Linked DNA regions of Homo sapiens: region 2 is linked to region 1. The links come from fine-mapping of genetic effects on gene expression. Tissue or cell type: blood mononuclear cells. Region 1 holds a variant in brackets; the other region holds the start of a gene. All regions are shown on one strand. Distances are between the middles of the regions.

What was found. PIP is the estimated chance that this variant, and not a neighbour inherited with it, causes the effect.
Region 2: it holds the start of TRPC4AP, and the variant in region 1 is fine-mapped to the expression of TRPC4AP in blood mononuclear cells (TOPMed, PIP above 0.99). The same link has a PIP of 0.9 or more in monocytes after LPS and monocytes after R848.

Annotation. Positions count from the first base shown.
Region 1 is chr20:35,053,461-35,058,688 of GRCh38, forward strand. TRPC4AP (transient receptor potential cation channel subfamily C member 4 associated protein) reads right to left here. Exons shown (of 19, transcript NM_015638.3): 4 at 4,054-4,111; 5 at 1,516-1,571. Among named protein-coding and RNA genes, the nearest start is that of TRPC4AP, 37 kb to the right of the region's middle. RefSeq lists an enhancer at 2,428-2,537. The variant T/G (reference allele first, on the strand shown) is at 2,377.
Region 2 is chr20:35,089,968-35,095,195 of GRCh38, forward strand. It overlaps TRPC4AP (transient receptor potential cation channel subfamily C member 4 associated protein), which reads right to left and starts at 2,840. Exons shown (of 19, transcript NM_015638.3): 1 at 2,647-2,840. The coding sequence starts at 2,814. RefSeq lists an enhancer at 526-1,085 and a silencer at 2,612-2,741.

The DNA of each region.
Region 1 (5,228 bases):
ATTATACACTGTCTTCTTCTATAAGGACAATTTCTTATTGGCCTTAGTTGCAAGAACTGTGCATTTCCTGAACAATTTGAAATTTTATCTTATAGATCTCCCTGTGCCTATCTCTGTCATTGGCTATACATGGCTACCGAGCACTTAAAAGGTGGCCAGGCCAAACTAAGATGTGCTCTGGGTGTTCAAACAAGAGGAAAGAAAAACAAAACACACACACACATTGGATTTTGAGAGCTCAATACGAAAAACAAGTAAATATCTCATTAATAATTAATTATACTGATTACATGTTAGAATGACAATATTCTTGATACACTGTGTTAAACAGAATTTATCATTAAAATTAACTTCACCACTTCTTCCTACTTTTTTCTTTAAAAAAATGTGGCTACAAGGAAATTTAAAATAACCCAAGTGGCTTGCATTATATTTCAATTGCACAGCACTATTATAGATGCTGAATTACGTAAGTGTTCAAACATATTCCCCTATTTGTGTTGGCTGCTAAGAAGCTTGAAGCCAAATTTGTGCCCATCCGTAATACAGATGATTTTATGGTCTTCATTTTTATATCAGCCCAATTCCTGGCTATACGTTATGTCCCCACCTTTATCTTCTTCTTTCTTACCTGCTTCTAAGTTCGTGATCTTGGTAGATTTTGCATACACCCACAAGATGTCAGAAATCTTATTTTGAATGAGGCAAGAAATGAAATGGAGCTAAATGTTTTTTTTTTTTTATTTCCACAGCATACAGGGTTCACATTTATAATAGCGCTCGTCTCATTCTGCCATGTATTATGATTCACAGTTTACACAGTTTATCATAAGTTTCTAAAAGACAGGTACTGTATCTTTTAAAAACTAACATTTATATATTGTTTTACAAAGTGTTTTCACATCTACTATCTCATTTCTCACAATAAATCTATGATGTTAATACAACTGCTAACTGCATTCTATTGGTAAGAAACTACGGCTTGGGAGGTGTACTAAGCCAAGGGCCAGAACACAAAATCAGGTCCTAACACTAAGTGCCATCCTCTTTTGTTTCTACCAGATTGCTTTCTTTATTCACCATTCTTCCTGGCTCAGTGGTCAACCTAGTAGAGTCCTGCTCAATATATGGGCGGGGCTTCTGGTTCTCATTTTGTTTTCTAACAAGGAAAATGAAGAAATAGGCATAATGGAGTTAAAATGAGTCTTAAAGGTCACAGTCTGCCAACACTTGTCACCTTTTGACAAGTGTCCAGTTTCTACTTGGACAGCTCTAAGGCCAAAGGAGTTTACTACCTGCTGCAGCAGTCCTGGCTCTTAACAACTGCTACAAAATTCTGCCTCCCCGTAATTTCTACCAGTTAGTCCTGATTTTCAGGCACACATAAAATAAGCCCGATTCCCCCACTGTCTGAAAGCAGCTCTTATGTCTGCCATTCTACTCGAATATTCCCATCTTAAACATTGCAGACCTGGTAGGGGAGATAAACAGAGCCCCAGTGGCAGGGGTACTTACACAGACACAGGTATTATACAGGATACTCAAGCAGTCCTTGGACATTTCATCACTTACTGAAAGTGAAAGGGTAATGACTGGTTATTTTTCTCAATGAAAAGATAGTACAACAGTTACCACATTTTTTTCAGCATAAGAACTGTTATAATCCCCTCCAAGATGATTATTTTTCCTTTAATATACTTCTTCCAGCCCCTGTCTACCAAAGGTTTTCATAGTGCCCATCAGAACCTACAAGCCCATTTGCATATTGCTTTTGGTTTGATACAGCAGCTGTTTTCTTATTATGCTCCACAGTCTTCATAATTTCAACCTGTTGTTGTGCCATCATTTAATAAAGCCATTTTCCCTTAATGTCTTGCTTAGGATATATCTAGGATTTGTTTTTTTTGTTTTTTGTGTTTTTTGGCTATTTAAGTAGACCACAAATGAACAACTTAATATATATGTGTATCCTTTTCATGTTTGTATTAAACTAGTTCCTCAAGATACATTTTCAAAAGTAGAACTACTAGAATCTAAAGTATAGGCATCTTTTTTTTGTTCATTTGTTTTGGTTTTTTAAATGAGGTCTTACTCTGTCACTCAGGGGCACAATCACAGCTCACTGTAGTCTCGAACTCCTAGGCTCAAGCAATTTTCCCTCCTCACCCTCCCGAGTGGCTAGGACTGCATGCGCGTGTACCACGCCTGGCTAAAAGTTAAAAGTATAAGCATCTCAATTGCTCTTGTTATAAATTTCCATTGAAAGTTCTACTGCAGCAAACAAAAATACCATTTTTATCAGACTCATTAACTGAGCATTTCTTTTTTTGTTGCTGTTATCTGTGTTGGGCAAATGGCTCTTAATGTCTGATCTAT[T/G]ACTAATTCTTATAAAGAAACTACTACTTCCCTGTGAGCAGGAACAGGAAAGTAGCATAAAAACGAAACTTAATTTTCATGAGCCCAAAACCAAAAGATGATGAAACTGAGTATGAACCATGGACAAAGTGCTTTATTTGGCACTTGCTTCTATTTTTTAAAATTGTTTCCATTCACTCCTAAGCTGCTAGGAATGCTAAAATGCTAGGTCTCCTTCTCAGATCCCAATGGGCAGCCCTGCCAAGCTAGCTTGACTAGATGGGTTGTCTCATAATCCTGAGACAACGCAGACGCTCTGCATCCCTTATCACCACCTTTCAACCTACTGGGGCTCTGTGATTGATTTATTTAACGACTTCAGAGCAGGGTGAAACACTGCTCTGCATGTCTCACTATATATCTCACTATTTCTAGATCCTCCATTTTTAAAAGGAATTGGGATTCACTCATTCATCAAGTATTGTTCAGCATCTACTCTAGAGCAGATACAGTGGTGAGGGAAAAAAAGTCTCAGCCTTCATGGAACCTATAAATCTAGTGGGAAGAAGAGAGACTAAACAAGTGCACCAACAAATAATTACAATATGCTACTTGCTATGAGGGTACATAGAGAACATGAAAGACCAAGTTAGAATACACAGCTGAGACATTAAAAATGAATATAAATCCTCTTAATAACCACTACTGCATGCACAAATGAGGCCTTATACAGTATGTCGTATTGGGGTAAAAAAAAAATCTTTTAAATTAAAAAAACGCAAAGTTGGTAGGAGGGCATTCACCAAACATTAACTGAAGTCATCTCTGGCTTTTAACACCAGAGTAAAGTGCATTCACTTTTTTATTTTAAATTAAATACCGAAGCTGGGTGCGGTGGCTCATGCCTGTAATCCCAGCACTTGGGAGGCTGAGGTGGGCAGATCACTTGAGGTCAGGAGTTCGAGACCAGCCTGGTCAACATGGTGAAACCCCATCTCTACTAAAAAAAAAAATACAAAAATTAGCCGGGTATGGTGGTGGGCGCCTGTAATCCCAGCTACTTGAGAGGGTGAGGCAGGAAAATCACTTGAGCTCAGGAGGCGGAGGTTGCAGTGAGCCAAGATCATGCCACTGCACTCCAGCCTGGGCAACAGAGCGAGAGACTGTCTCAAAAAAAAAAAAATTGAATACCTAAAAAGAATTATTTGTAACGTGTAAGTTATAAAAAATAATAATAGAATATTACCCATATATCTACCACCCAGCTTAAGAAATAGTGCATACCAAAACACTCTGACTTTTTACCATTCACACCCTGGTAATGCCTGAACTTTTTACAAAGAGCATGTATCACCTTTCTAAAAAAAATAGTTTAAAAAAAATAAAACAGAGTGATCTTACTCTCTCAGCTAGTTATATGTGAGAAAGAAGAATTTCCCAAGGAAACATAGAAGCTGGATCACAGGACTATCAAAAGTACAAAGATGCATTCTCTTAACCCAGATCTGAATTTCTACGCAGTACAGAATGAATAAAGACAGCTGCTTAGCTGGGGGAGGAGAGAGCAACCTGTAGCTAAATGTAAGACATGTCCTTACTATTAAGAGTTAGGAAGGGAAGGAAGAAGGCAGCTGCTGGGAACTGCCACCGTATCGGCAGGTTGGAAAACAAGGACCAGTAGCTAATAGGTATACTTACTTTTCAGTTTCTGTCCCCGGATAGAGATCGTAGGCCTCATAAGAATTTCTACAAGAAGCTATAAAAAAAATTAGATAAAATCTTCAAAATTAATTCAAAGTATAACTTATAAAATGATTTTGCCATAACCATTCATGGCCCATGTATCTGTCACAGTATTACAAGACCCTTTTGTTCCAGGAGGCAGTTAAGGTTCAGTAAGGCTCCTGACTGCAGCAAGTCAGGAGACCCAGGTTCTAGTCCCAGCTTGGCCACCTACTTGCCCTTCTCTGGCCTCAGCTTTCTCATTTTTGAAAAGAAGTATTTTAGATTAGGTAATCTCTGGGATCTAATGCGGCTTTAATTTCTGAAAAGCTGCAGAACATTATTACTATGATTCTTCTGTTTAAAGAACATTTGTAAGTTTATTTTAAAAGGACTCAAAAGATACACCATAAATTGTTAACACTGATTTCTACAGGTTTGGGGGTTATATGCATGTGTTTTTTATTTTACATACTTTAATACAATTTTGCACAAACTGTTTAAAATAAGCATGTATTTAAAAATTCATTCTACGGAGAGAAAGGATAGTTGATAAAAGGGTCAATCCATTAGAAAGATATAACAACTACAAATATGTATGTACCTAACAATAGAGCCCAAAAATACATGAAACAAAAGCTGGCAGAAATGAAGGAAACAGATAATTTAAAAATAAAAGTTGGACACGTTAATAACTCTGCTTTCAATAATAGACAACTAGGCAGACGAGCAAAGAAATAGAAGACTTGAACACAACGAACACATATATTCTAACAGACATCTACAGAACACTCCATGCAGCAAGAACAGAGTATACATTCTACTCAAGTGCACATGAAACATTCTCCAGGACAGATCAAATTTCAGGCCACTGAACAAGCCTCAATAAATTTAAAAGCACTTAAATCACATACAGTATGTTGTGTGGCCACAATGGAATGAAATTAAAATCAGAACGAAATTTGGGAAATTCATGAATTATATGGATAATTTTAAAAACCCATCCTAAATAATAATGGGCCAAAGAAGAAACCACAAGGGGAAGTATAAAGTATCCAAGAAGGATGAAAATACCAAAACTTATGATGTAGCTAATGGAGTGCTCAGAGGGAAATTTATAGCTGTAAATGCCTATATTAAAAGAAAATTCT
Region 2 (5,228 bases), 37 kb after region 1:
AAATTAATGGGGTGTGGTGGCACACGCCTGTAGTCCCAGCTACTAGGGAGGCTAAGGTGGGAGGATCACTTGAGCCCAGGAAGTTGAGCTTGCCACTGCACTCCAGCCTGGGTGACAGAGCAAGATTCTGTCTCAAAAAAAAAAAAGGGTAAGCAAATAACTTATTCTGCAGGATGGGAGAGAGGAGCGGAAGGGCACAGCATGGAATAAATTAAAAAAAAAAAAAACTAAGAAAAGAAATATTTGAAAGATGAAGGTCCCCATTTTATCCTCACTATAGCTCCAGGCAGGGGGTCTCTACTTCAACTTCTGAAATAGCTCCCACACCTATATACAACCATCAGTTACCACAATAACCTGCCTTGCTTTTGTGGCTCCAGAATATTCCAGCAGCCTTGTATCTGGTGAGCTTTTTTTTTTTTTTTTTGAGATGAAGTCTCACTATGTCACCCAGGCTGGAGTGCAGTGGCGTGATCTCAGCTCACAACCTCCACCTCCCAGGTTCAAGCAATTCTCCTGCCTCAGCCTCCAGAGTAGCTGGGATTACAGGTGCTTACCACCACGCCCGGCTAATTTTTGTATTTTTAGTAGAGACGGGGCTTCGCCATGTTGGCCAGGCTGGTCTCAAACTCCTGACCTCAGATGATCCACCCGCCTCGACCTCCCAAAGCACTGGGATTACAGGAATGAGCCACTGTGCCCAGCCTCTGGTGGGCTTTTCTAGGCTCCTCCCATTCTAAGTCATTCAGCACTGGAAACAAATTAAGTTGCCTAAATTGCCTCATTTATCATGCTAAAGAACTTCTGTGGCTCCCTATTATTCTCAGAACACTGATTATCAGGATGGGTGTTTAGGAACATATCATCTAACCTCTCTGAGCCTCAGTTTCCTCATCCATATTAAGAAATGAGTCTTGAAGCATAACTCAAAAGCTTGAGGATTAAAGATAACATATGCCTTGTACCGTACTTTTTCTAAAGGTTATGTGCTCACTAAAAGTTAGTCCTCTTTCTGCCTGTCTCTACACACCCAGCTCGGTAAGGTATCTTAGCTTAAGAAGGAAAGAGCAAGTATTTCTAGGATTTTTTTTTTTTTTTGAGACAGGGTCTCACTCTGTCAATCTCCGCCTCCCAGGCTCAGGTAATCCTCCCACCTCAGCCTCCCCACAGGCACACACCACCACCATGCCCGGCTAAATTTTTGGAGACACAGGATTTTGCCGTGTTGCCTGGGCTGGTCTCGAATTCCTGGATTCAAGCGATCTGCCTGCCTCGGCCTCCCAAAGTGCTGGGATTACAGGGTCTTAAGTCAGGTCTTAAGAACACAAGGGGGAAAAAGGCTGCTCATCTATGGTTGTGTGATGGCCAGGAAAACATTTCTCACTCACAACTGCTCCTTTCGTCCACAGTCCTCCATACACACAGACCCCCTAGCCTTTATTTTATTCTATCCTTTTCGTCATTTGAGGAAGTGATATTCAAATTAAATTTAAATAAAGTTACACTGTGAAAAGTCTCACTCCCATTTTCTCCCCCTTTAGCCCAATTCCCACCTCACTCCCACCAACCACTTTATCAGTTTCTTGAGTATCCTTCAAACTTTTTATGAAAAAGCTGTCTTTAAATAAAGCTAATGTTTTACAGGTGTTAGCAAGGTTCGGGGTGGGGGAGGGTGGAAGAAGTAGTGGACTAGGTCCTATTCAACCTGGTTTACCCTAAAGCAGTGTCCTTCGCTCACTCAAAAATAACAATAATCATATGTTGGGCACCTGTTATAAGTCAGATGCTTAATATTAACTACCTTCAGCCCTTAGTATGCACCAGAAATGCACTAATGCTTTACACAATTGCCCCCTTTGATCTCCACAACAATCTTAAAAGGTAGGTTACTAATTCTCATCTTCATCTTACAAGTGAGGAAACTGAGGCACAGAAAGGTCACCTGCCCAAGCAAGAGAGAGGAGCAGGGCTTTGAACCCAGGCCTGACTCCAGAGTCCCTCTTAACCGTGACGCTCTACACTAGCAAACCAGATATAGTCTCTGCACCCGCTGGAACTCAGCCTAATGTGGGAGACGGGCGAGAAAAAGGCAGACAACAAAGAAATACGAAATTATAGACTAAGAAAGTAATGTAAACGAAACGAATTCGCGGCTGTGACAGAATAACAATGGGGACCTACTTTAGAAAGGGGAAGGAAAGAGTGTCAAGGAAAGGCCTGAGAAAATGACATTTATGAAATGCTCGGGAACCATTTGGGGGCTGCAATGATGACCCCCTCCCCCACGCCCAATACACGGGATAAACTCGAGGCCCACAGAGGCTAAAACAAACACGACAGGGTCCCCCAGACGTGTAGACGTGGCGCAAAGAAGGGAGGATCCAGAAACTGGGCCCAGGGTTCGTACACGCCATCAGTGTCCACAGCAGCCCAGCCCCGCTCGGCCCCTGACAAGGGACATCAAGCCAGCTGCTTCCCACGGCCCCGCTGCAGCTGAGAGCGTCCGGGCAGCTCACAGGGAGGCCTTCCGGCCAGCCAAAAGGGCTTTGGCCCGTCCAGCGGCGGCCTGGAAAGGCCTCTTCCCCGGCCCCCCGCCAGCTCCCGCCTGGTCCGCCCCGCCCCGCCCCTCCTGGTCCAGCCTCGTACCTGCACCGCCCGGACCAGGCCCCGGCCGGTCAGCTGGCCCTGCCGCAGCTGCAGCAGAATGTTACCAGGCCGCGGCCGGCCGCCCCATCCGCCCCAAGCCGCCACTGTGGCTGCCGACCGTCTCCCTCGGCCGGCTCCAGACCCAGCCGCTACCGGCGCCGCCGCCATGTCTCCTCGTCGGACAAACAGGAAGCAAGCGGCCTCGGGGCCGCGGAGATTTCTACGGGGCGGCGGAGGGGTCGCCGCAGCGCCCCCAGTGGGCCGTCGGCGGAGGCGCAAGCCGCGTGGCAGGGACCGTGTGCGGCGTGGAGGCTACTGGGAATTGTAGTCCTGCGCGGCAGCGGGGTAGGTGGGAAAAGAGATGTGGCCTTTCCTGCACTGCCGGTTTCTCTGGCCCCCGGGCCCAGCATTTCGGCGAAATCTCCCAAGGTCCACATTCTCCCATTTCTCTCGCCGATTTGGGCAGGATGCAGGCAGCTGGCCAAGAAATGATCCTGGGCTTCAGGTCAGGAGTCAGGCCCTCGAGTCCGCTTCCTGCCTGCTTCTCTCTACACGTGACTCACCGCGGACATCGACCAAGTCATCGCGCTCTGCCACTGCGCCTGTGTCCTCGTCAGGTCACTCCATCTATAGATTCTGGGAGCCTGATCAATCGTAGTTCCTGGGGCTTTCTCTGCGCCCGACACCAAACCATGTCTAGGGGAAAGGGAGGGTGTCTGGGATACAGTGGTGAGCAGAACGGCCTGGGATCCTTTATCACGAAATGCAGGTTACAGGGGAAGACAGCAGATCCATACACAAAGAAACGCAGTCTCAAACTGGATAAGTTGTGTAACTGGGTAGGTTGTTGTGAAATTAAATAATGGAAGGGAAAGGGATTAGTAAATTGTGACATCATATTCTCTGTCAGATGAAAACCCTGTCCTAATTTCTATCCACCAGATAGCATGTTGTCTCTAATACTCATTTTTTCAGCTAACTTCTGTGGCAGGATGGCACTGACTCCCCCCACCCAACACACACACACTTTTTCCCTTCCTAGCAGGGGGCCTGTAATAAAAATGAAAGAGGAGAGCTAAGTGTGATGTAACAGGGAATGGTGAAGATTGTGACTCATAACTAAGATGACTGTAACTTACTGCTCAAACCAGAACACTTTAAAGAATGAAAAGACACAATAAATAATTACACCGGGACGGTAGGCATAAAAGTGACTCTCCCAGGTGAACTGGCACTATGGTTACCATCCTCACACCCCATCTAAAAGGAGTAGACTCACCATCCATCTTCATAGAACTAGAAAAAAGAATCCTAAAAATCATATGGAACCAAAAAAGAGCCTGCATGTCCAAAGCAAGACTAAGCAAAAAGAATAAATCTGGAGGCATCACATTACCTGACTTCAATCTATACAATAAGGCCATAGTCACCCAAACAGCATGGTACTGGTATAAAAATAGGCACATAGACCAATGGAACAGAATAGAGAACACAGTATAAAACCAAATACTTATAGCCAACTGATCTTCGATAAAGCAAACAAAAACATAAAGTGGGGAAAGGACACCCTATTCAACAGCTGGTGATAACTGGCAAGCCACATGCAGAAGAATGAAACTGGATCCTCATCTCTCACATTATACAAAAATAAACTCAGCCGGGTGCAGTGGCTCACACCTGTAATCCCAGTGGCTCACACCTGTAATCCCAGCACTTTGGGAGGCCGAGGTAGTCAGATCATGAGGTCAGGAGTTCGAGACCAGCCTGGCCAACATGGTGAAACCCCATCTCTACTAAAAATGCAAAAATTAGCTGGGCGTGGTGGCATGCACCTGTAGTCCCAGCTACTTGGGAGGCTGAGGCAGGAGAATCACTTGAACCCTGGAGACAGAGGTCACAGTGAGCCGAGATCACGCCACTGCACTCCAGTTTGATGACAGGATGAGACTCCATCTCAGAAAAAAAAAAAAAAATAGCCAAAGAAGTTACAGTCAGGAGATATTTTGTTCCCTATAGAAACTGAATATAACATCTTAAAATTTGTCCCTGAGTGTTGTTTCTTAGAAACTCGAACCCCCACCAAATGGATCTGCTGATAGGCAAACTCAGATAAGGGAGAGCTGAGAACTAAACTTTGACTTCTATTTTTTGTTATAAATTTCTTCCTAGGGGGCCTGGAGGAGGACACGACCATAAGTCAGAGCTAACATTCTTTTCTGCAGATCCCAAATTTTTAGACAAAGCTTTACCTCCTTAACCAATTACAAGTCAGAAAATCTTTGAATCCACTTGTGGGCCCCTGGTTGGAGATGTCCTGTCTTTTTAGGTGGAACCAATATACAGCCCCTATGTATTGATTTATGACTTCGCCTGTGGCCTCTGCCCTCCTGCCATTAAAAACCTGTAAGCCGGCTGGGCGCGGTGGCTCACACCTATAATCCCAGCACTTTGGGTGGCCGAGGCAGGTGGATCACCTGAGGTCAGGAGTTCGAGACCAGCCTGACCAAAACGGCAAAACCCCGTCTCTACTAAAGATACAAAAATTAGCCAGGCATGGTGGCACGTGCCTGTAATCCCAGCTA